Homo sapiens: one gene and its partners. The protein of the gene in region 3 purifies or fractionates together with the protein of the main gene of each other region. This does not show direct contact. Each region holds a gene or a part of one and is shown on either strand. Other genes may lie near its edges. The genes, in order: LONP2, DNAJC3, OLFML2B and CHSY1.

Evidence for each region.
Region 1: the proteins of OLFML2B (region 3) and LONP2 purify together in Homo sapiens (co-immunoprecipitation; 2 studies listed by BioGRID and IntAct, with this or other methods). This does not show direct contact.
Region 2: the proteins of OLFML2B (region 3) and DNAJC3 purify together in Homo sapiens (co-immunoprecipitation; 2 studies listed by BioGRID and IntAct, with this or other methods). This does not show direct contact.
Region 4: the proteins of OLFML2B (region 3) and CHSY1 purify together in Homo sapiens (co-immunoprecipitation; 2 studies listed by BioGRID and IntAct, with this or other methods). This does not show direct contact.

The regions. Positions count from the first base shown.
Region 1 is NC_000016.10:48,352,300-48,358,562, reverse strand, and holds the end of LONP2 (lon protease homolog 2, peroxisomal), read right to left. Parts: 3' UTR 1,899-6,263; coding exon of another isoform or gene 1,853-1,898; 3' UTR 1,214-1,852; downstream 1-1,213. UniProt on the Homo sapiens protein: ATP-dependent serine protease that mediates the selective degradation of misfolded and unassembled polypeptides in the peroxisomal matrix.
Region 2 is NC_000013.11:95,791,591-95,795,653, forward strand, and holds the end of DNAJC3 (dnaJ homolog subfamily C member 3 precursor), read left to right. Parts: 3' UTR 1-3,398; downstream 3,399-4,063. UniProt on the Homo sapiens protein: Involved in the unfolded protein response (UPR) during endoplasmic reticulum (ER) stress.
Region 3 is NC_000001.11:161,982,111-161,986,001, forward strand, and holds the end of OLFML2B (olfactomedin-like protein 2B isoform 2 precursor), read right to left. Parts: intron 2,871-3,891; coding exon 2,694-2,870; intron 2,167-2,693; coding exon 1,565-2,166; 3' UTR 1,082-1,564; downstream 1-1,081.
Region 4 is NC_000015.10:101,234,555-101,242,267, forward strand, and holds part of CHSY1 (chondroitin sulfate synthase 1), read right to left. Parts: intron 1,024-7,713; coding exon 528-1,023; intron 1-527. UniProt on the Homo sapiens protein: Has both beta-1,3-glucuronic acid and beta-1,4-N-acetylgalactosamine transferase activity. Transfers glucuronic acid (GlcUA) from UDP-GlcUA and N-acetylgalactosamine (GalNAc) from UDP-GalNAc to the non-reducing end of the elongating chondroitin polymer.

The DNA of each region.
Region 1 (6,263 bases), on a different chromosome or scaffold from region 3:
GGCATGAGCAGCTGGCTCCAGCCACATGTTTATTTTCAAAGATATTGGGAGCCCTTTTATGTATTACCTTGTAGGCCTTTCATCACACAACATGGTCATCTGAGTGTTTCACCACTTTAATAATCTTGGAAAAATAATTTTTGTTAGTTTGAGGATTCACTGTAATTTTACCTAGGTTCTTGCTGGATATAAGTAAACCATGAACATACCTGTATGTTTTCTGTTTATATTCTTGGGATTATTTTTTACACACTTCATCATTGCTTTCTGGAGAGGTTCCAGAGGACACCAGTAACTGTGTGAAGTTTTCCATTTTCATTTTCACCTCATGTTTTGCTAATTTAAGCAAATTAAGGTAGTACATTTTGTGTTTAACAGTTAATAAGCTTGACATTTTAGTATTAACTATTTGCATTTGGGTCTTCATATTCTTAGCCTATAGAGGTAAGATCTATAGCCATATTTCTTGGTCCATTACACATTTGATTTATGAGGCATAACTCTTGTCCTGAAATTGCTTGTTATAACGAAGACTTCCTCCATTTCTTATTTTTGGTGTCTTTCAGGAGGCTGTACATGGGGTAGGTATGGGAGATACTTATTAACTTTGTTCTATTGCTTTTATACCCTTAAACTTGAAATTGTCCTATTTAATCATGGGCCAGTTTGGTGTGTTAATTTTTGGGGAACAGTTTTTCCTTTGTGAGTAATTTTTATTGTAATATGTATGATTTTAAGACCCACCTTTCTGCAAACTTCAAACGTATGTAAGTGGCTGTAGATAGCTTAGCTCACCAAAATAATAGTGTGCTGCCTCCAACCCCCAAAAGCTCTTCATATTTAGAAACATCTGCAGTGATTCTACTAATGGTAGAATTCTATTTCATTCACACTCCTGATTAGAAGAATTGGTAAGTAATCCAAATTAAGAAAATAATGGATCAAATCCAACATACCTGGGGGGTCAGTCTGTGACTGCTGCATTAGAATGGACATAAAAGTAATGTCGAAACTCGACAGGGTGAATAGTGTGTGTGAACTACCACGCAGGACTGTGGTATTTGTGTAGGTTAAACATGAAAGGTACAGATAGAGTGTTACAGAGACCCGGAGTTTGAAGCTTTGTCATTCCCCTCCCCACTCATCCAGTGTGCATGTTCAAAGCACAAAGGAGTATTTGGTAGTTTACTGCTTATGATCCTAACCTGAATTTACCAAAAGAAACGTACGTTTATCTAAAAATGGCACCATCCAAACAAAATTCCTTATCAAGCATCTACTAAGATTTGGTGGCAAACAGTGTGGGTTGTAGATTCTAACTGCCTGGGTTGACTTCTGACTCTGTATCTACCAGTTTTTATTTAAATACCTTCTCTGCCTGGTCCCTCCTCCACAAAAGGGTATGATGTCCACTGCGTAAGGGAATGAGGAAGGCTAGATGTGCTATAAAGTGCTTATTATGCCTGACTTGATACCCCAGTGTCTTGCTGAACCAAATATTTTCGCTATCCTTATATAGCTCTAGAAACTTGACAAAGAAATACACTTTATTATCATAGATGTAATTTTCTTAGGCCTTTCTGAATTCTGAAAATAATAACAGGTTTACAGATATAAATAATGGAGCAAAAGGACACCTGGTTTTGGGGTCACATTTTGACAGGCTTGCACTGTCATGTCAGGATGAGGATTTAGCCTCAAGAGTTTGTATTGCCTAGAAATGTGCTGACAGTGTCATTAAGTACAAACTACAGTATTTCCAAAGAAATGAATTTTCATGACAAAGCTTTTCCTAAAATTGTTTTAGAAGTCCTTTTGCTGTAACTTTTAAAACATCTCAATGACCACTCACCATATTTGCCTGTTGTCTATTCAGACCTTTTTGATATTTCCTTCCTCTTTCAGCATTTTTGTTTTTTAAGTGCAGTTTTCATTGTGGTATCCACCAAATGTTTGTAAAACAAACAAAAAAAATGAGCATTAGTGTTGGACCATAAATCATCAAATTGGATAATGACTAACTGTAGTCTTTTTTTTTTTTTTTTTTTTTAGCTGCTGGATACAATTTTCATGGCAATAGGAACTGAAGTACTTCAAATAATGTGAGCTTAAACATGTTACTTCATTGAAACAACCAAAACTACTTGATGTTTACATCTAAAATCCTGGTTAAAATAAATTTTAGATTTGGAAAGGGAATTGGCAAAACTAACATTCTTTGTAGCAAAATGTCCCTTAGTAATAGTCAAGTTGACCTCATTTCAGTAGTTCATAAAGGAAAATCCAAAGCCCTCAGCAGTGAATTACCTGGCCACATAGCTGATTTTGGTCACTGTGAATGCAGACCAATCACCTAGTACTGGAAGCTCACAGTGGTAGACATCACTATCACAGTACTTTACGGTCATGGATTTCTCGTGAACTATTTCAGGAACAATCACAAAGATGACATTCTTCACTGTATTTGCATTTGTAACCACCAAGCAAGTAAGGATCTCTGCCCCAGATGCATGGTTTGAGGTAAGGTTCACAGGGACCACTAAAGGGGCAGAGCCAAGTAAAAACATGGATGTCTCCAGTGGACAGTGTAGGATTTCTTGATAAGCAAAGCACCTAAAGCTTTTAGTTTTAATACTTGAGAAGTTTTAAAAACCCATGCATAAAACGTGGAATACCGGTAAAATACACATATCCCTAAGTCTAGTTTAAACTAAAATTTCTAGAGTTAATAATTTTCAATAAAAAAATCCAGCTTATTTTGATACAAGGGGTCTTTGGGTAACATCTTAAAAATCAATGCTAGAAAATGCTCAACATCACTAGTCATTAGGGACATAGAATCAAAATACGTCACACCCATTTGGAGGGCTATTATAAAAAACCCAGAAAATGAGTGCTGGCAAGGATGTGGAGAAACTGGAACATTTGTGCATTGCTGGAAGGAATGTCAAATGGTGCAGCTGCGGTGGAAAAGTTTGGCAGTTCTCAAAAAGTTAAACAGAATTATCCTGTTGTCTTAGTCATTTGTGTTAACCGTAACAGAATACCTGAGACTGGGTAATTTAAAAGTACGAATTTATTTCTCATAGTTGTGAAGACTGAGAAGCCCACGATCAGCGTGCTGGCAGACTGGTATCATCTATTGAGGGCCCAGTCTCAGCTTCTAGGACGGGGCCTGTTGCTGTGTCCTCATATGGTGGAAGGGAATCGAAGGGCAAAAAGGAGGTAATTGGTTCCCTTGAGCCCCTTTATAAAGGCACTAAATCCATTAATGAGGATGGAGCTCTCATGACATAATCACCTCCTAAAGCCTCACCTATCACGTTGGTGGTTGCTTCAACATACGAATTTGGTGGGGGGACATTCAGACCTTAGCATATGTGATCTAGTAGTTCTGCTCCTGGATATGTATCCCTAAAGGACCTAAGAAGGGACTTCAAGAGAGATGTGTACACCCATGTTCATAGCATTACTCATAATACCCAAGAGGGGGAAACAATCAGCAGATGAGTGGATAAACCAAATGCGGTCTATGGATATAGTGGTGTATTATTTGGCCATAAAAATTTCTGGTACTTGCTACCACATGGCTTTTTCCCAGGGAAAGTATTAGTTTTTGTTTGACAAAACACCTTGATAGGTCATGGTTCTGCAAGGCAGAGATGTGAAACAAAGAAAGCTAACTGTTGCAAATAATAAAAAGTTGGAGTTCCTTTGAGCTAAAGCTAAAGTGGCAAAGGAGGAAGAGGTTCATCCCTACCCTTCTGCACCCCATTATTTTGAAGAAAAAGAGTGGCCTGACCCTCCAGATCTTTCTTTTCTGGAGGACACTGGGCGAAAAGTAGTTGCCCCAGTGACTGTTCGAGCAGTTGATGGCTTGCTAAGTAAGAATGCTAAACACAAAAGGACAACTCTTGTTTGATCCCACTCATATGAAGGGAAATTCAGAAAGAAAGTGAAATAGTGGTTACCAGGGTCTGGGGTGAGGGTGGAATTTGGAGCTCTTTTTCAGTGGGTACAGAGTTTCAGTTTGTGGTGATAAAAAATGCATGTAAGCCGGGTGTGGTGGCTCACGCCTGTAATGCCAGCATTTTGGGAGGCCAAGGTGGCCGGATCATTTGAGGTTGGGAGTTTGAGACCAGCCTGGCCAACATGGTGAAACCCTGTCTCTACTAAAAAATACAAAAATTAGCTGGGCGTGGTGGCACACACCTGTGGTCCCAGCTACTTGGGAGGCTGAGGCATGAGAATTGCTTGAACTGGGGAGGCAGAGGTTGCAGTGAGCCGAGATCATGCCACTGCAGTGCAGCCTGGGTAACAGAGCAAGACTCCATCTCAAAAAAAAAAAAAAAAAAAAAAAAAAAAAGCGTGTAGAGTGGACATGCTTAGATCCAGTAACTGATACCCCCAAATTATATGCTTAAAAATGGTTAAAATTTTGGCTCTTCCCCACCCGCCCCACCCCTAACCCCCCACCCCCCCCAAAAAAAAAAAACCCAGGTGAAAAAGGAAGAGCTTAGACTTCAACCAACCAACCTCCCACCCCTGGAATTAAAAAAAAAACAAAACAAACCAAAAACAAAGCTAGTGCAATGGTCATACTGTTCCATGTCATACACAGCAAGGGGAGAATGCATTATTCTCTCAATGGATGCCTTTCGAAAGATATGCTTAAAGCAAGTGCCCTCCTGCTGCTACAAAGTGCAAGGCTGCCTGTGTCAGGACTAAAGGAAGAATACCGAGAACCCCAAGTTATATCCTTGTTGCCCCTGCTGGGTGGAACAGGGCAGAGCGATGTGGGTGTGGATTAGCGCCCTCTGGTTGCTGAAAGTGAATTCACAGTTTGTTCTAGTCCCCAGTTAGATGACGTTGGAAATGATAAAATTACAGTAGTTAAGATAGTCAATGGCATATTTTCAAACATCCCGATGTTCTTTCTCTCCAACTGCCATAACTAGTCCTAGGTCTGGACTTTTCCTCTCAATGCATTCAGATAAACTTTTATCAGCAGGCCTGCTATTTTATCACAGTATTTTGGCCCAATCTTTTTTTTTTTTTTTTTTTTTGAGACAGGGTCTCACTCTGTCGCCCAGGGTGCTGGAGTGCAGTGGCGTGATCTTGGCTCACTGCAGCCCCGACCTCCCTCATCCTCCCATCTCAGCCTCAAGTAGCTGGACTACAGGCGGGTGCCACCATGCCCAGCTAATTTTTGTATTTTTTGTAGAAATGGGGTTTTGCCATGTTGCCCAGGCTGGCCTTGAACTCCTGAGCTTAAGTGATCCACTCGCCTCGATTTCCTAAAGTGCTAGGGTTACAGGCGTGAGCCACCATGCCCAGCCCAGACTTCCTTCTCATCCAGGAAATTCCAAAATGTCTTTACATACATATTCTTATATTGTGTAATAAAAGATTCTGAAGTCCATTACTGGCTAGAATAATAACTAGAAATTGCTTAATATTACTATACATTGCATTTGAACTTAATCTCCACAGTAACAATTAGGTAGTATTACTTGGATTTCATGGATGAAGAAAACCAAGATACAAAAAGTTCACACAGCCAGTAAGCAGATGAGCCTGACTTCATAGTCATACATAGCCTGAATTGAGTCCCAGCAGGAGCACATGGGCATGGACATCTACCAGATTTGGGAACTGGCGTAGCCAAGCAAGAAATAGGAGACGGAATCAGGAGTTAGGATTCCATGCTTAGGACCATCCCAGATGGATGGCTGCCTCCCTCTGGGAGCTGCACTCTTCTGAGGTTGCAGGCATCCAGGGCCAGGGTGCTTCTGTGAGGTGTGCCAGCACGTGCCACTCTGCTGGATACAAGCTATCATGTTCTGAGGGCTGCTTCCCTCAGCATAAGAAGGGGCTTCTATTGGGATGTGTAGGCTTCATTGTAGGGTCCACTTGAGTCTTTTTTTTTTAGAGACAGTCTCGCTCTGTCAGCCAGGCTGGAGTGCAATGGCGCGATCCCAGCTCACTGCAACCTCCACCTCCTGGGTTCAGGCAATTCTTGTGCCTCAGCTTCCCAAGAAGCTGGGATTACAGGCACATGCTAACACGCCTGTATATTTTTTGTAGAGACAGAGTTTCGCCGTTGGCCAGGATTGTCTTGAACTCTTGGGCTCGGTGATCTGCCTACCTCGACCTCCCAAAGTGCTGGAATTACAGGTGTGAGCCATCACGCCCGGCCCACTTGAATATATATATATAGCCAAGAATAGTTGGCTATACTTTCATCTTTGCCTAGTTCTAAG
Region 2 (4,063 bases), on a different chromosome or scaffold from region 3:
GAAGGAGCAAGAGACCATCTTTTAGGAACCCTGCCACCAAATAATAATATATCCAGGCTTAGACTTTGGATTAATGTTAAATGTACATTTTTTTGGTTCAGTACCTGAAGAAGAATACTGAAACTTGAATCTATAAATTCCTATGGACCCTTTTAATATTAAACACAACAAATTAAAAGTTGTTATAGGTAAAATAAGTTCAGATAAAATAGTGGTGGTATTTAAAATAATATTGCTGAAGTGCAGATTGAAATACTTTTTAAACAACTGAAGTTCTGAGTTTTTATAGGGAATTTCATGTAACAAGACTGGTTTAGAAACGTAAAGTTGCGCAGTCAACATAAATAAATACAGAATGCCATGTTCTCCACTTCTAAGTAAAGACAGTGGGCAGCTTCTGTTTCTCCTTCTATCAAGGCTTCACCCTATCTTAAAGGTCTGTGGTGCCTCCCACGTGGGACCTGTCTGCTGGTATGTGTTAAACAGCAGACCGGCCCTTCTACCAGATCTTGATGCCTCTGATTTTCTCCTGCCTACAAGAAAATACAGGCAAGGTTAGTCAGGTCTGGCTATATTTCCACTGTTGTTTCATTTAATAAGATGGCATCTCCTCTTGAGATATGTTCTTCTTACCTTTTAAGAAGATACTATTTAAGAAGTGAACTATTCAGTCTTTGTATACTGAATGCTTTTTCCCTAAAAAATGTTAATCAAGAATATTGAATATTTATGGCACTCTTGATGCTGCATTTGAAAGCTGAAGGAATTACTTTAGATAGATAGGAATTGCTACCTTTATTCTGGAAAGGTTTTGTTTCTGCCTCAAAGCATTTTGAAGTGTTTTAACCATTAAAGGGTCTAATTTTTTTTTCTTAATGAAATCAAGCATTTTAATTCACTGTGGGAGGCATCCTGACCACGGACATCCATAACAGCAAAGCACAAATCGTTTTCGTCTGTAGTCATATCCTGAAACATAGGTGGACAAATTTTTAACTGAGAGACAAAAATCACATAGTTGAATTGAGCAGAACACTTAAGTGCTTTCTGCATCTATTTAGGAGTCTATTTCTTACCAATAAACTTGACAACGCATTTGGAAAACTAGTGAACACCTTACAGCTTTCATTTTGCTTTAATGTTTCAATTCAAGCCGGTGTAAAAATAATTTCCAAGGCATTTCTGTTTATTCTTTAGTAATCTCACTACTGGCTATGTCAGCAATATCTTTTTCAATCTGGTTCCTTTTGTATATGATGTCACTGTGACCTCTTTGAAATATAGTGATGGCTTTTACCTACTTTGAAAAGAATTTTCACATAGAGTCAGAAAAAAAAGGAAATATCAAATCACTTGCCTTTCCACTTGGAGAGCACGACAGTTGCCAACAACAAGGGGTCAAGGGCCGCACAGGAGATGTGTGGGGGCCTGGCCACCTCCCACCTGCTGCCCAGAGGCTTGTTTGCATTTTCATTTTTTCTCCACTTGTAACAACCATAGTTTCAGCTCCTAAATTCTTATCATGGATTTACTTAGTCATCTTAACTGACCTGCAGTTACTTGCCTGTTTTCAGTGAAGAGAGAGAAGCAGCTCTGGTGCCACATGCCAGTGCCATGGAGGGAAATGAATTCTCTGCAATCTGTTGTTTCGCTGATTCATGAAGAAAGTAACAACTGTTGAGTTTCAGCCTTGATGGCTGTCGGCAGTTTTCTGGTGTCCACCCAAACGGAGAGACAGTCACTCCTGCTTACCCTAATGTGTGACTGAGAAGCAGCCTGGGTGTGTAAAGAGATAGTCATTCCCCCTGCCTGTCTCACTGTAGGGTAGCATTATCCACTGTAAAACCATACTACTTTCATTTTCCCTTGGGGACTACAGGTGCCAGGTAACCTTTTTTTTTTTTTTTTTTTTTTTTTGAGACAGAATCTTGCTCTGTTGCCCAGGCTGGAGTGCAGGGACACCTCCCGGGTTCAAGCAGTTCTCCTGCCTCAGCCTCCAAGTAGCTGGGACTATAGGCACGCACCACCATGCCTGGCTAATTTTTGTATTTTTAGTAGAAATGGGGTTTCACTGTGTTAGCCAGGATGGTCTTGATCTCCTGACCTTGTGATCTGCCCGCCTTGGCCTTCCAAAGTGTTGGGATTACAGGCGTGAGCCACTGCGCCTGGCCATCAGGTAACCTTTATGGCTCTTTCAGGAAAAGTGAAATCAGAGAGGCGTACCCTAGCCACAGCTGTTGTATTCTGCTCTTCTTTCCTTTTTGGTGAGCTTCATGGGTGGAGTTATCAGTGGTCTGTACTTTGTGGATATTTTGCCCAGCAGGAAGTATTAGACACATCAGTCTAGAAGCATTGTGAAAAGGTTCCAAAACGGGAGACAAAATTTAATTCATTCCTCAGTTCTGAAAGTTTGTGCTTTCTTACCATGAATAGATGAAAACTTGAAAAAAATCTTGACAGTTTACTAATGTGAATCAGATGTAACGTACTACTAATTCTACAATGCCTTTCTCTTTAGTCAGTATTAAAAATCTTTTTTAAAGTATTGGTATGAAAACAAATTTTTGTTGCCCTGATAATGGAATTTTAAAACTACCCACAGTTTAAGAGAAAACATAACTTGGTAAAAAAGGTAGCCAATAAAACCACAATTTGAAATTGATACCATTTTCTACTCACAATGGATGATGAAAAATTTCACCTTTAAATGGGTCAGAAGTTGTCTTTGACATTTACCATGAAAAAACTACATAAAATGGCTCCCTGGTGAGGTTACAGACACGGCCCTGGTGATGGGCGTTGCAAAGTTTTCACTGAGCACACAGCAATGGTATCACCTAGAGAAGTTCACGCAACTTTGTTGAATGTAGTTGACTTTTCCAAATTTATAAAGGAAGGAAGAAGGCAAATGTTAATTTGCCAACAACGAATATCCTTTTTCTAAATCAGATCATTCCTTTTTTGTTAGTGGCAGTTTATCCTGTAATTTCAAATGACGTTAAGAGGTGGGATTATTTGGGGGTTTTTTTTGTTTGTTTACAGATGATCTCATTTGCTGAATGATTGATTTAAGAGTAAAATTAGCCACTGCGTGGCTTTGTGTATAGTAACCGGTTTTGTTGCACTTGTCTGTGGCTGAAACACTTACCTGCAGTGGAAAGCCGAGCAAGGAGGAGGTAAACATTGGAGATGTTTGTGAAAATATTACTCTTGCTGTGAGGTTTTAGTTTGTTTTGAATGAGAAAAGACTAAGTAACTTAATCCATCTCAATGTAGTGTTTTAATAAAAAAGGAACCTAATATTTGAAATGGGTCTCAGACATGTCTACAAATATGGGTACTATTTTTATGCCCGTGTATTTTCACATTTAATAAAAATATTTATGGTCATATCAGTATTTCCTTGCTTTTGATTCATTTTTGTCCTTGAGTATAAAATTCTAAGAAAGTCCGTCTTAGGAAAAGTCTATTATTTCCAGCTTTGCTTCACGCAAAACCAGTGACTGAGGTGACAAAAGGGCTCTTCCTTTACACAAGTTGACAGGGAAGGTCAGAACACACAAAGCAGAAAGGGCTAAAATAAAATCTCTTAACCCTCAAAAGTCCTAGGACAACTAAGGACTTAAAAAGTGGACAAGTCTTCCATTTCAGTGCTATTAAAATGTAACACTTAAATTGGCTTTGTCTGAAGATTTTCTCTTCTCTTTTATACCCCATTTGTACATTTCTGTTAAGGTCCTAAGTTGGGAGGAAGGAAGGACACTATAGCCTATCTATCTCAAATTTCCAGCTACAAACAGAAGGAACTGCCTTCTCAGTTAATGTATTCTGCATATCTTAAGAAAGATCCAAGGAGAGCTACGATATGTAAATGTATACAGAACTTTTCCAGAAAGCTCAAACCTTCCTTTTTTTTTTTTTTTTTTTGAGACGGAGTCTTGCTCTGTTGCCCAGGCTGGAGTGCAGTGGCATGATCTCGGCTCACTGCAACCTCTGCCTCCCTGGTTCAAACAATTAACTGCCACAGCCTCCCGAGTAGCTGGGATTATAGGTGCCCACCACC
Region 3 (3,891 bases):
AGTCCTGGATGTTGTGCTCAGGGAAAACATTAACGACCACCCAGCTTCAGGCCTGCGGTTACCCCTGCCTCTGCTTCCTCCTTCCGGCATGTGGGAGGAACCTGAGAAGTGTCCTCACCTGGCCTGAGTGGGCAGTTTGGCTCTAAAACCAATTGATTCACCCAGACAAGCTGCAGCCGGCCTCCCTGGAGGGCTGTTCCTCATGGCCCCCCACCTTGTTCTCTACACAGCGGGGGTGCTCCCTGGTGTGACCCTCTAACTTGGGGTCAGGAAGTGAGGCCGCCTACAGAGGGGTCGGGAGGAGGCTGAGGGGAGCTGCAACAGGAGAGCTGTGCTGATCTCCCTGCGGCATCCCTGGGTCCTGCCCTCCTTCATAACCTCAGGAGATGCCTGTTCAGGCTTTTTCAGATGTTCTATCTCCTGTTTTGTGTAATGTGGAGGAAAAAAATCACACTTGTGGACAGCAGGCACTGCACAGGGCTCAGCCCTGCACCGGGAGGGGCTGCAGTTCTTCCCCATCCCTCAAGTGCTTCCCTCAAGGACCTTGTTTCAGAAAGGGGCCCCTTTCCTGGAAGGGAAGGTGGGAGGGAAAGCCTGGCCGAATGAGCTTGTTCAGGAAAAGGCAGACAGGGTTATGGGCAGAAGGAGAGAAGGGGAGAGAGATGGATTGATTGAGAACTTCTTAAGGAAGTGTGGGAACAAGGTCGCACTCACTCAGTTTTGTATTTTCAACAGTGCCTAAGACCAGACCTCGAGAAGCAGGGCTAATGAATGAACGGGTTCCCCAACCTTGGGTGAAGTGATCAGAGGAGTAGCAGAACAGAGCAAGGAAGCCAGTGTGACAGAAAAATGAAGAGATCAATGCCACAAAATTAAAGAGAACACGGGGGTCGCTCATTCCAAATCCCCCACCAGGAAGCCCCTATCAGGAGGGGAGGAGGAGCTCCTAGGAACTGAACTTGGACGCAGGCCACTTCAGCTAGAGAACATTTCTGAGGAACACCAGACCTCGTCTCCTTCCGGGAGCGGGATCCAACACCTGGCCAGACATATCGGTGCTGAACAAAAGTGCACTGGGGGATGATTTTAAATTTCTTCTTTATTAAAAAAAAAAAGCGTTTTTCTGGGTTTTTTAAAACTTCTCCAATACATTAAAACTTTTTTTCTCGCCACATAGCACTTCTTTCTTGCCTCTTTCATTTCTGCTCCTGGTGTTGCCTGCCTCCTGCAAGACCCAGATGAAGAAACCTTTTCAATGGTCGAGATCTGAGACTTGGAGCTGGAGGGGCTGAAGGCTTGAAGGAAGGTGGTTACTGGTCAAAAGGAGAAGTTCATTTGCACAAAAATATAAACTGGGGAGGATGAGACCAGCACATACACGTATGGATTGATCTACAATCCATATAAAAAAATAGACCCAAATTGTCATTTTACATTTGCAATATTATACAAAATAATATATATTTTTAAACAACACATACCCACCTACACACACGTGCGCGCACACACATACACACAAGGTGCTAGTGACCCCTCTGTGCTTCTGCTTGTGGGGACAAGGGTGTCAGTAGGCAAAGATGACATGGTAAGTGACCTGGTGGCCATTGTCCCAGGCATAGAGCAGGCGGTCCTTGGGGTTGTAGTCTATCTGGGTCGTATAGGAATACTCATTCTCGAACAGCAGCCTGGGGACGATCTGTGTGTTGGTGTGGGTGTCGAAAGCGTAGGAGATGTTGGCATTCCGCTGGTTGTAGCTATCCACGGCATACAGCACCCCACAGATGACGAAGCAGTTGCCGTAGAAATTCCTCCGGAGCCCCGTGCGCCATGTGGTCTCCTTCTGTGTGCTCAGGTCCGCGGCATTGAGCTTGCTCAGGACAATGACCTCCTGGCTGAAGCCCTCATCGTCCAGGGCCGGGTAGATGAGCCATAGGCCATTCTCGTCCACAGCAAAGTCCACGTCTGAGTGGCCCTGCCATCGCCAGGGGGTGGCCTCCTCGTAGGCCACGTCATGCAGCATGGCCCAGGCAGCCACGTAGCGCTGCTTCAGGTCGTACTTGATGATGTTGCGGGTGAAGGCGCGATTGTAGTAGAAGGCGCCATTGTATACCACGTGGCCTGTGCCGATCCAGCTGTACGGGAGCTTGTAGGAATTGCTCCAGCGACCTGCAGGTGGGGAGAAAACAGGAGGCTTCAGAGTGGCATGGCAGAGGGTGGGCAGCCCATGTGGTTAAGTGAGTGATGATCAACGAGGGGTCTGGAAACCCAGGTTTGTGTCTTGGCTCTGCCACTTTCTAGCATCCTGTAGCACATCACTCAACCTGTCCGTGCCTCAGTGTCCTTATCTGTCATAGGGAAGTGACAATTCCCATCTGCCTGTTTCAAGGATCCGGGGAGCTAATATACATGAATGTGGTTCATAAATTGTCAAGGGCTATGGGAAAGGGAGCCTGTCTTCTGGACTCGGAGGTTTTTCCATGTCCCAGGAGCTCAGGAGGAGGGGCAGAGCTGAGAGGCAGAGAATGTGAGGGAGTGGGGAAGGGGGACCGCTCTCCAAGGAAAGGTCCTTTAGCCATCAGAAGAAGGTGTCATCCTTCCTATCCGTCATTACCACCCAAAGAGGCCTGGCTGTGATAAAAACAGAGGACGTGGGGAAGGGAAGGAGCAGTCTGGGTTGGATCTTTATCATGTACCTTGTTTGAAGTTCTCCAGGTTCCGGAACTCTACCAGGGTGTTGCCGTAGTAATAGTTGGTTACGTAAATCCGCTCATCCTTGGCCAGGGGGTCCTTCATCCAGGCCCCTTCATTCCGCCCATATGTGTTCTGGGTGGTCGGCCCCGTGATTGTGGAGAGAGTGTCCTTGCACCTTCCTGGTGGAGAAGAGGTGGATGGAGGTTTTGGGCTGATCTAGTGATGCCTCACCCCTTAAACCTTTGCTGTTCATCCATTTAGAGTCTGGACTCCTCGGCAGGCTTTAACAGCCCTGTATAACCTGACCCCAAACATTTTTCCACACCATCTCCTGCTACTCCCCTGATCCACCCTACACTTGACCCTACACTTGAGCCTCCACCATGCCCATCTTTGGCAACTTTCACACCACTATGCTTTGCTCCTGTTCTGACTTCTCAGTCCTATCCTTCAAAGACCTAAGATCCAGAGTCCTTTTATGACATCATGCCCTCCTCTGGAGAACTATTCTATTCTATTCCATTCAGCTCTCAGGGTACCATGAATGCTGCTCTCTTACAGAGCATGTCATCCTGCATCTCCACAATGTTTGTGCTTCTCTCTCCTCCCTCCACGCCTGCCCCCAACCGGAGCGTAAGCACCAAGGGATGAGGGAATGTGGCTTTTCCTCATTGCATTCTCAGTGCTCAGAACACGGTGTCTGGCTTGCTGCAGGCACCCAAATGTCTGATCCCAGGGTGAACACACAGCATGAGAAGTGTGGCCAGAGGAGAGGCCTCTGCTGGGTGTAACCAGGAACTCGGCTCTGCCAGCTGCTGAGCTGCCCCAGGCTGTGGGACCAGCCCTAGTGGAGCAATGGCTATTCATGTCCCTGAGGCCCACCTGCTGTCCTAGAGAGCTGTCCCCAAGCCTAAGCCCCTGTCACTACTGGGAGCAGGATGCCAGGGCCCTCTGCTGGGTAACTGGGGGGCAAGATACCAAGTTCTTGAATAAGGAGCTGACTCTGGGTATAGAAGCCTCCTTCAGAGATCAAGTCGGCCACGATGGGACAGGAACTCAGCAACGTCCTTCTGAGTGGCTCTGGATCCGGTGCCCAGGAGAGGCCCTAAAAAGCCACTGGAACTATACTGGGTTCTAGATGAAGTTGAGAGCCTGCAATGCTTATATGCAGTATTATTATTGAGCATAGCCTTGAATGAT
Region 4 (7,713 bases), on a different chromosome or scaffold from region 3:
ATTAACTAAGTATTAGGACAAAAGTATGGAAGAGCCGGGCGCCGTGGCTCACGCCTGTAATCCCAGCATTTTGGGAGGCTGAGGCAGGCAGATCACAAGGTCAAGAGTTCGAGACCAGCCTGGCCAGCATGGTGAAACCTCGTCTCTACTAAGAATACAGAAATTAGCCTAGCGTGGTGGCGCCTGCCTATAATCCTAGCTACTCGGGAGGCTGAGGCAGGAGAATTGCTTGAACCCAGGAGGCGGAGGTTAAAGTGAGCCGAGATGGCGCCACTGCACTCCAGCCTGGGAGACAGAGCAAGACTCTCTCTGGGGGGAGAAAAAGTACAGAAGATATGCGCTCAAAGCCAAGAAAAGGTAATAAAGGGGAACTGAATTTTTTTTTTAATCTAAGGCTAAAAATGTAGAATAATACCAACTTCAACCCTCAAAGAGGATATCATCTCTAGTTTCCTATGATACGCTCAGAACTAATGACAAAATTGACAAAATTAAGTTTTTCCCATGGTAAAGAATTCTGTTCTTACCTCATAAGACCAGACACACTGCACCCCTGCAAACCTCCGGACACACCTTCCCACCTCCACGTCCTCATGGGTGGTGTACATCTCCCGGAGACACTTGCCAATGTGCGGCACCATTCTCCGAAGCACCTCCCGGCTCATGATCACGCCAGGCCCCCCCATGCAGAAGTTCTCACCAGGCTCCAGGGCCAGTTTTCCCATTTCTTCCGTGGTGCCCAGGCCTGTCTGCCCAAGAAAGAGGGGCTCGCTGCTGTTCAAACTCCTCAGGAAGTTCTCCAGACGGTCTCCTTTGATGTACACGTCATCATCTGCTCTCATAAACCATTCATACTTGTCCAAGTAGTGGTCGTGCATGTACTTGAGCATCATGAAGGACTTCTTCTGGGGCGGGTAGGAGTCGTCCACACCCCGTAGTGGCACTACTGGAATTGGTACAGATGTGTCAGAACCCTCACTTGAGAAGAACTGAACTTTCCCAGGAATTGTCTTGGACCATGTTCTGGAATTAAAATAAATATCAGTTAGAGAACAGTTTATTCCAAGCTGATTTTCAGGAATTCACGTTATCTGCTCATCTTGTATCGCCGTGTTCAATGGAATGATAAAAAGCTACTTGGCCTGCTTGGTTCCTCTTAACGAAAGCCCAGGTTACCGCGTATTGCAAAGTCTAAATTAACTTTCAAAAGAACCCCAACAAAAAATGAAGAAGTGTTAAAACTGTTCTGGGATAACTAAGTTTTAGTTATGGCTGAAAACCAAACTGCCAGGGGACCAAGGTCTGGGTATACAGATTAATTTTGTGATACTATCAACTCCCTACCTAAGAACTTCTCAACTCTATAAAACAAAAAACAAAATCAAATGGTTCACTCAAAAAATTTTCTTTGAACCAAGTGCCAAGTATGTGCTAAGCTAAAGGGATGTGGTGGTGAACAAAAACGTGATCCCCAACTCACAGAGAGGACATCAGGAGAGACAGACACTTACCAGAATAATGAGACTAATGTATATATTATTATGAACTAAGAGAAGTACTCCCAAAGGGCAGAGCACAGGACATGAGCTGAACCAACAGAACAGGGAGCCTTCCCCTGAAACAGGGTAAACATCAAGGAATGCAGGGCACGAGAGCGCTGTCATGAGGCGAGGAAGAAGGCTGATACGGTTTGGCTGTGTCCCCACCCAAATCTCATCTTGAATGATAGCTCCCACAGTTCCCACATGTTGCGGGAGGGACCCAGGGGAAGGTAAGTGGATCACGGGGGCAGCTTCCCCCACACTGTTCTCATGGTCAGGAGTGAGTCTCATGAGATCTCATAGTTTTACAAGGGGTTTCCCTTTTTGCTTGGCTCTCATTCTCTCTTGTCTGCCACCAAGTAAGACGTGCCTTTCACTTTCCACCATGATTGTGAGGCCTCCCCAGCTATGTGGAACTGTGAGTCCATTAAACCTCTGTTTCTGGGCCGGGCATGGTGGCTCAAGCCTGTAATCCCTGTACTTTGGGAGGCCGAGGCGGGCGGATCATGAGGTCAGGAGATTGAGACCATCCTGTCTAACACGGTGAAACCCCGTCTCTACTAAAAATACAAAAACAAAATTAGCCGTGCGTGCTGGCGGGCGCCTGTAGTCCCAGCTACTAGCGAGGCTAAGGCGGGAGAATGGCATGAACCCGGAAGGCGAAGCTTGCAGCGAGCCGAGATCGTGCCACTGCACTCCAGCCTGGGAGACAGAGCAAGACTCTGTCTCAAAAAAATAAATAAATAAAATAATTTTAAAAACCCCTCTGTTTCTTTATAAATTACCTATTTTGGTATGTCTTTATCAGCAGTGTGAGAACAGACTAATATAGAGGCAAATGTGGCCGGGGGCAGTGGCTCATGCCTGTAATCCCAGCACTTTAGGAGGCCGAGGCAGGCAGATCACAAGGTCAGGAGTTCAAGACCAGCCTGGCCAACATGGTGAAACCCCATCTCTACTAAAAAAAAAAATACAAAATTTAGCCAGGCATGGTGGCGTGTGCCTGTAATCCCAGCTACTCAGGAGGCTGAGGCAGAAGAATTGCTTGAACCCGGGAGGCAGAGGTTGCAATGAGCCGAGATCGCACCACTGCACTCCAGCCTGGACAAAAGAGCAAGACTCCATCTAAAAAAAAAAAAAAAAAAAAAAAAAACAGAGGCAAATGTGCAAGGCCTGGCAGAGTACACTAGAGATGCAGGCCTCTATGTTGCAAGAGCCACAGGAAGCCTCTAGAGGGAATGCGGCAGAAGACAAGATTAAGGCCCACACATTTTGAACTCCCTAGGAATGGAGAAGAAGGCCGAAGGAAGCCAGAGTGGACACAGGAAGACCACTGAGTAAACTACTGCAGCAGCCCAGACCCGGGTTTAAGAGACAACGGTTGCCCATCAACAGAGGGAAGATGAGTGGTCAATTGCGAGGAAACCACATAAAGGGTTTAAGAGACAACGGTTGCCCGTCGACAGAGGGAAGATGAGTGGTCAACTGCGAGGAAACCACGTAAAGGGTGTAAGAGACAACGGTTGCCCATCGACAGAGGGAAGATGAGTGGTCAACTGCGAGGAAACCACGTAAAGGCTGCTTCTGCTGAGCAGCTAATTGAAGGCTATCATATCGCACTTTCCCTCCTACTTTCTTCACGTTCTGTATTCAGATCTAAAGTTGTTTGGCTATAATAATTCATTCATACAGACTACTTCCAAGAAAAATGTATCGTGGAGAATAAATAAAATAGTAAATTTAATCTTAAAATAAAAAAAGCAGTTATCAAATGATGTTCTTTCAAATATTTTTTATTTTACCTGTTACAAGTGTATTTATTATAGTGAAAAATTACTTGAAGGATCAATGAAACCCCCACACATCTTTAAGGGAAAGTCTTAGGAGAGAAATATCTGAAAAGATACACACCAAATCTCTGCGGAAGAGGTACACAAGGAGGAAAATTGGGAGGAGCTGGAATGTGTGTGGACAAAGGTGACTTTCACTTTTTATTCTATGCATCTCTATATTGAAGGACAACTGCATAAGTATCATATTGTTTTTTTTAAAAAAAATTGTGATAAAATATACATAACATAAAACTTACCATCTTAACCATTTCTAAATGTAAAGTTCAGCAGCATTCAGTGTTGTGAAACCATCGGCACCATCCATTTCCAGAACTTTTTTCATCTTGCAAAACTGAGATTCTAAATATTTACTTTTGTAATTTTAAAAAGAACTTACAATGAAGCACTTGGAAAACAAATGACTGGCTTTTATTTCTCTTCCAAACCCAAATATGAGGAATACAAAACAACTTCGAATGTATCTCTTTCAAGTAGAGGCAAAATTCAATGGAATTCGACTTTCTGCCAACACGCCTCTCAAAAAGTGCAAGGATTAAATATATACATTTTTTCATCACATTTAGGATGTTAACTGGAAGATGCACCATTGTTTTATCTATCAACAAATTTAAAAAATACTGCCAATCATAATCCCATGACGCCGGTAACTATAAAATGCATCCTAATTTCTGAGATGTCAAAATCACAGAATGGATATAAGATGGTGTTGTTAATGTTTTCCCTTAGTGCCTATGGATTTAAAATGGACCTGTATTCTTACGCCACTTAAATAACTCATTAACAAAGAACAAGAATAACAACAAAAAACAAATTCAGCCCAGACATTCATTCCACGGTTATTAACAGATACTGTTCTAGGTACTGCACTTCATTTTCACAAAGGATATGCTCCTGAAGAAAAAGGATGTAGAATAAACGTAGAGATGTGGAAATTAATTTAAAGAAAAACCAATCCCACCTACAAAGGGACAAGTCCTTTTGCAAATGCGACAATGTGTGAATGTGTGACAAGCTATACAGAGTCTTCTGATGCGGTGACATATGGAGGGGAGATAACTTCTCAGAACTCCTCCAGCCTTGGGAAGTTAGTAAGGACAAAATTATAGTGCAATGACCCCCCATTCAAGTCGAGGAGCCCCTGATAATGCTCTCTTTATAGAGAAATGTTTTTCATTTGGCAGTCGCAACAATTCTTTGAAAATGTAAATAATTTCAGTGCTTGGCACATAATAGAGGTCACTAAATGTGTGCACTGAATACTGCCCACTCATGTACAATAAGTAACTTAATGGTGCCACACGTGTTTGCAAAAGGTCAGAAATCATTTCTATCTTGTACTTTGAGAAATTTTCAACCTAGGAAGCCATGAAAATACTAAAACACTGTAATGTTATTTGGGAGATGGGGTGGGCGAGACAATTCCTGCCTTCAAAGAACAACCAACTAAGGAGGCGAATCTACAGCATCACCGCAAGAGCTGGCTCTGGAATCAGGCCATGGGGGCGAGAACTCCAGCTCCACTTGGGACAAGTTACTCTGTGCCTCAGTTTCCTTATCTGTAAACGGGGGTTGTTGTGAGGGTTAAATGAGCTCTCTGTAAACAGCTTAGAAGCCTGCCTGGCACTATGTAAGTATGACTTATTATTAAGGAAGACAAGAGTTTGCAAATCAAATAAGGTAGTGAAAGAACAGGAAAGTGTGGGCTCCACGTGGACTAGTCAGTCTCAGGAGCACACGGAGCAAAGGTAATGTGGAAAATGCTTCTTAAAACCTGAGCCTCAAGCTATGTACTGAAATCCTCTTTTACTATCAACTTCAGACAATGTTACAGGAAAGAGGCCTAACTGCAAATTTCACGAGCATTTCGCGGTAGAGCACGAGAAACTTCCCTACTAGACTGAGGATGAAGCTTCATTATAGTTTGGCCCTGCTTCCCGTGTACCCCACCAGGAAGAACACAGTGAAAGAGGCCCCAGCAGTACAACCAGCACAGACGCAATTAATGTCTCAACTATGACTGAAATGGTGTAATTTGCCCAAGAAGAGAAACCAATTAATTTTAAAAACAGTCTAACCTCAACCCTACAGTTTTATGGTAACTCCACCCAATTATTATCTGTTCCTTTTTAGGTAACTCAGGGAAAAACCTCATGTTGTCCTTTTCTGTTCTAAATGACTGGTGGTTGGTTTGAGGGAAATCTCTCAATGTCAAGTCTTTGTAAACCCTCCAATCTTAAGAAATTATAATCTTTTCAATTAGGGTCCTTTAACTTGAAGAGCTCCACAAAGTGAACGAGTTCAGGAACATAAATCGTGATTCACCACCATCCTGAGGAGGAGGAGGGGATGCATTAATAATTTCAAATAATTGAAGGGAATGCTCCCAAAGAAGCAAGCTGTCCCCTCTTCTGCAATATCAACAAGTCCAGTTCCTTCATTTTCATAAGCAAACGTCAGCTTTGCCATCAACACATTTGTTACCGGGAGCAAAGAACTCTCACTTAATTGAAATGACAAAACGTTTGCAGAGGCCTTGCCAGAAAAAGCTCATTTTCAATGAACTGATGTCCAACCCTTGCTCAAGCCCAGATAAGACAGCTGAAACTTGAGAGTGCCAAGTGAATCCTCCATCACTCTAGGTTTCTAAACGCTATTCCTACACTGAGTCAAATCACAGTTAAGTAATTCAGCTGGACCAGTATTAGCTTAGCTAAGGAATGCCTTTGCTGGTTAGGACTTAACCCATTTATGTCAGAGGTTGCGATTTTTTTGTGTGGAAAAAAAATCAGACTTTGGTGATAACCTTGAGCGGGATATAAATAACTCCCACAAGCTTAGCGTTCCAATAATGGAACTCTAGGCATAAATGGGTTAATATCATAGTCTCCATTTCCATTCAGTGTTGTTTTAAGAAAAACTACATAAAATACACTTCTGTACAAAACTGCATCTATAGCATGACTCTTGTCCTAGGTAAATATTCATAATATACGGGTAAGCTTAAAAAGCAGGCAACAGTATATACTTGTGATGTGGCTTACCAAGGGAACAAAAGTACATATACAAAAATAAAATAACGTACAACTCCACCCCCAAAGTATTCACCGTGGTTATTTTTGGATGGGAAAACCAGAAAGGATTTAATAGTCTTTTTTTTTGTTTTCTGAGACGGAGTCTGGCCCTGTCGCCCAGGCTGGAGTGCAACAGCGTGATTTCACTGCAACCTCCGTCTCCCAGGTTCAAACGATTCTCCTGCCTCAGCCTCCCGAGTAGCTGGGATTACAGGCACCTGCCACCACGCCCAGCTAATTTTTGTACTTATAGTTGAGACAGGGTTTCACCATGTTGGTCAGGCTGGTCTCGAACTCCTGACCTTGTGATCCGCCCACCTCGGCCTCCCAAAGGGCTGGGATTACCGGCGGAAGCCATTGCGCCCGGCCAATAGTCTTCCTTGTGTTTTCTAAATTTTCTAAGTTTTCTGCAACAGGTATATTTAGAGCTGGAAAAAAAGTTTTAACTGGGCAAAAGCTTTGAGGCTAACAAGCAACCAAAGAAATCAAAACATGTAACAACAGAGAATTTTTACTTTTGTAATAAAATTTTTTTATCCAACAAGAAAAACTGAAAGAAAAATGGAGTAAGATTGAGTCGTTTCAATTGTGATTTTTAAGCTTTAATAGTTATTCTACTAGTTACCATTAAAAAGGTGGGGAGATTTTCTGTGAGTTCCCCAAAATCACTATTACATGTGCTGTCTGATGGCTACACGGCAGTCAGTTTAAAAGGACTCATGATAAAATCATCTTGGAAGTTAAAGAAGGGAGGATATGGGTTTTTCTCTCTGTAGAACTGATGGATAATAGGAATTAAGGGTATATACAGCTGTTCCTTATCATCCAAGAGGGAATGATCCCAGGACCCCAAAATCCACAGACGCTTTAGTCCCTGATATAAAATGGTGCAGTATTTGCTTAAACCTTCACATACCCTCCTGTATACTTTAAATAGTCTCTAGATTACTCATAATACCTAATACAATGTAAATGCTATGTAAATAGTCGTTATACTATATTGTATTTACTTGTATTGTTTTTATTATTGTTATTTTCTATTGTTTTTCCCCCCAAATATTTTCAATCCATGGATGGTGGAATCCACAGATGTAGCAGATAGCAGGGCCAGCTGTATTTACATTCTCCCCTGTTACAGAAGGGATTTAAGACAACTTAACCAAAATCATACAGGATGAGAAAAATCAGCAAGAAAATGAGACCAAAGAAAAGTAAGAGTAGGAAACCCTTACGCAAGGAACGAAAGGC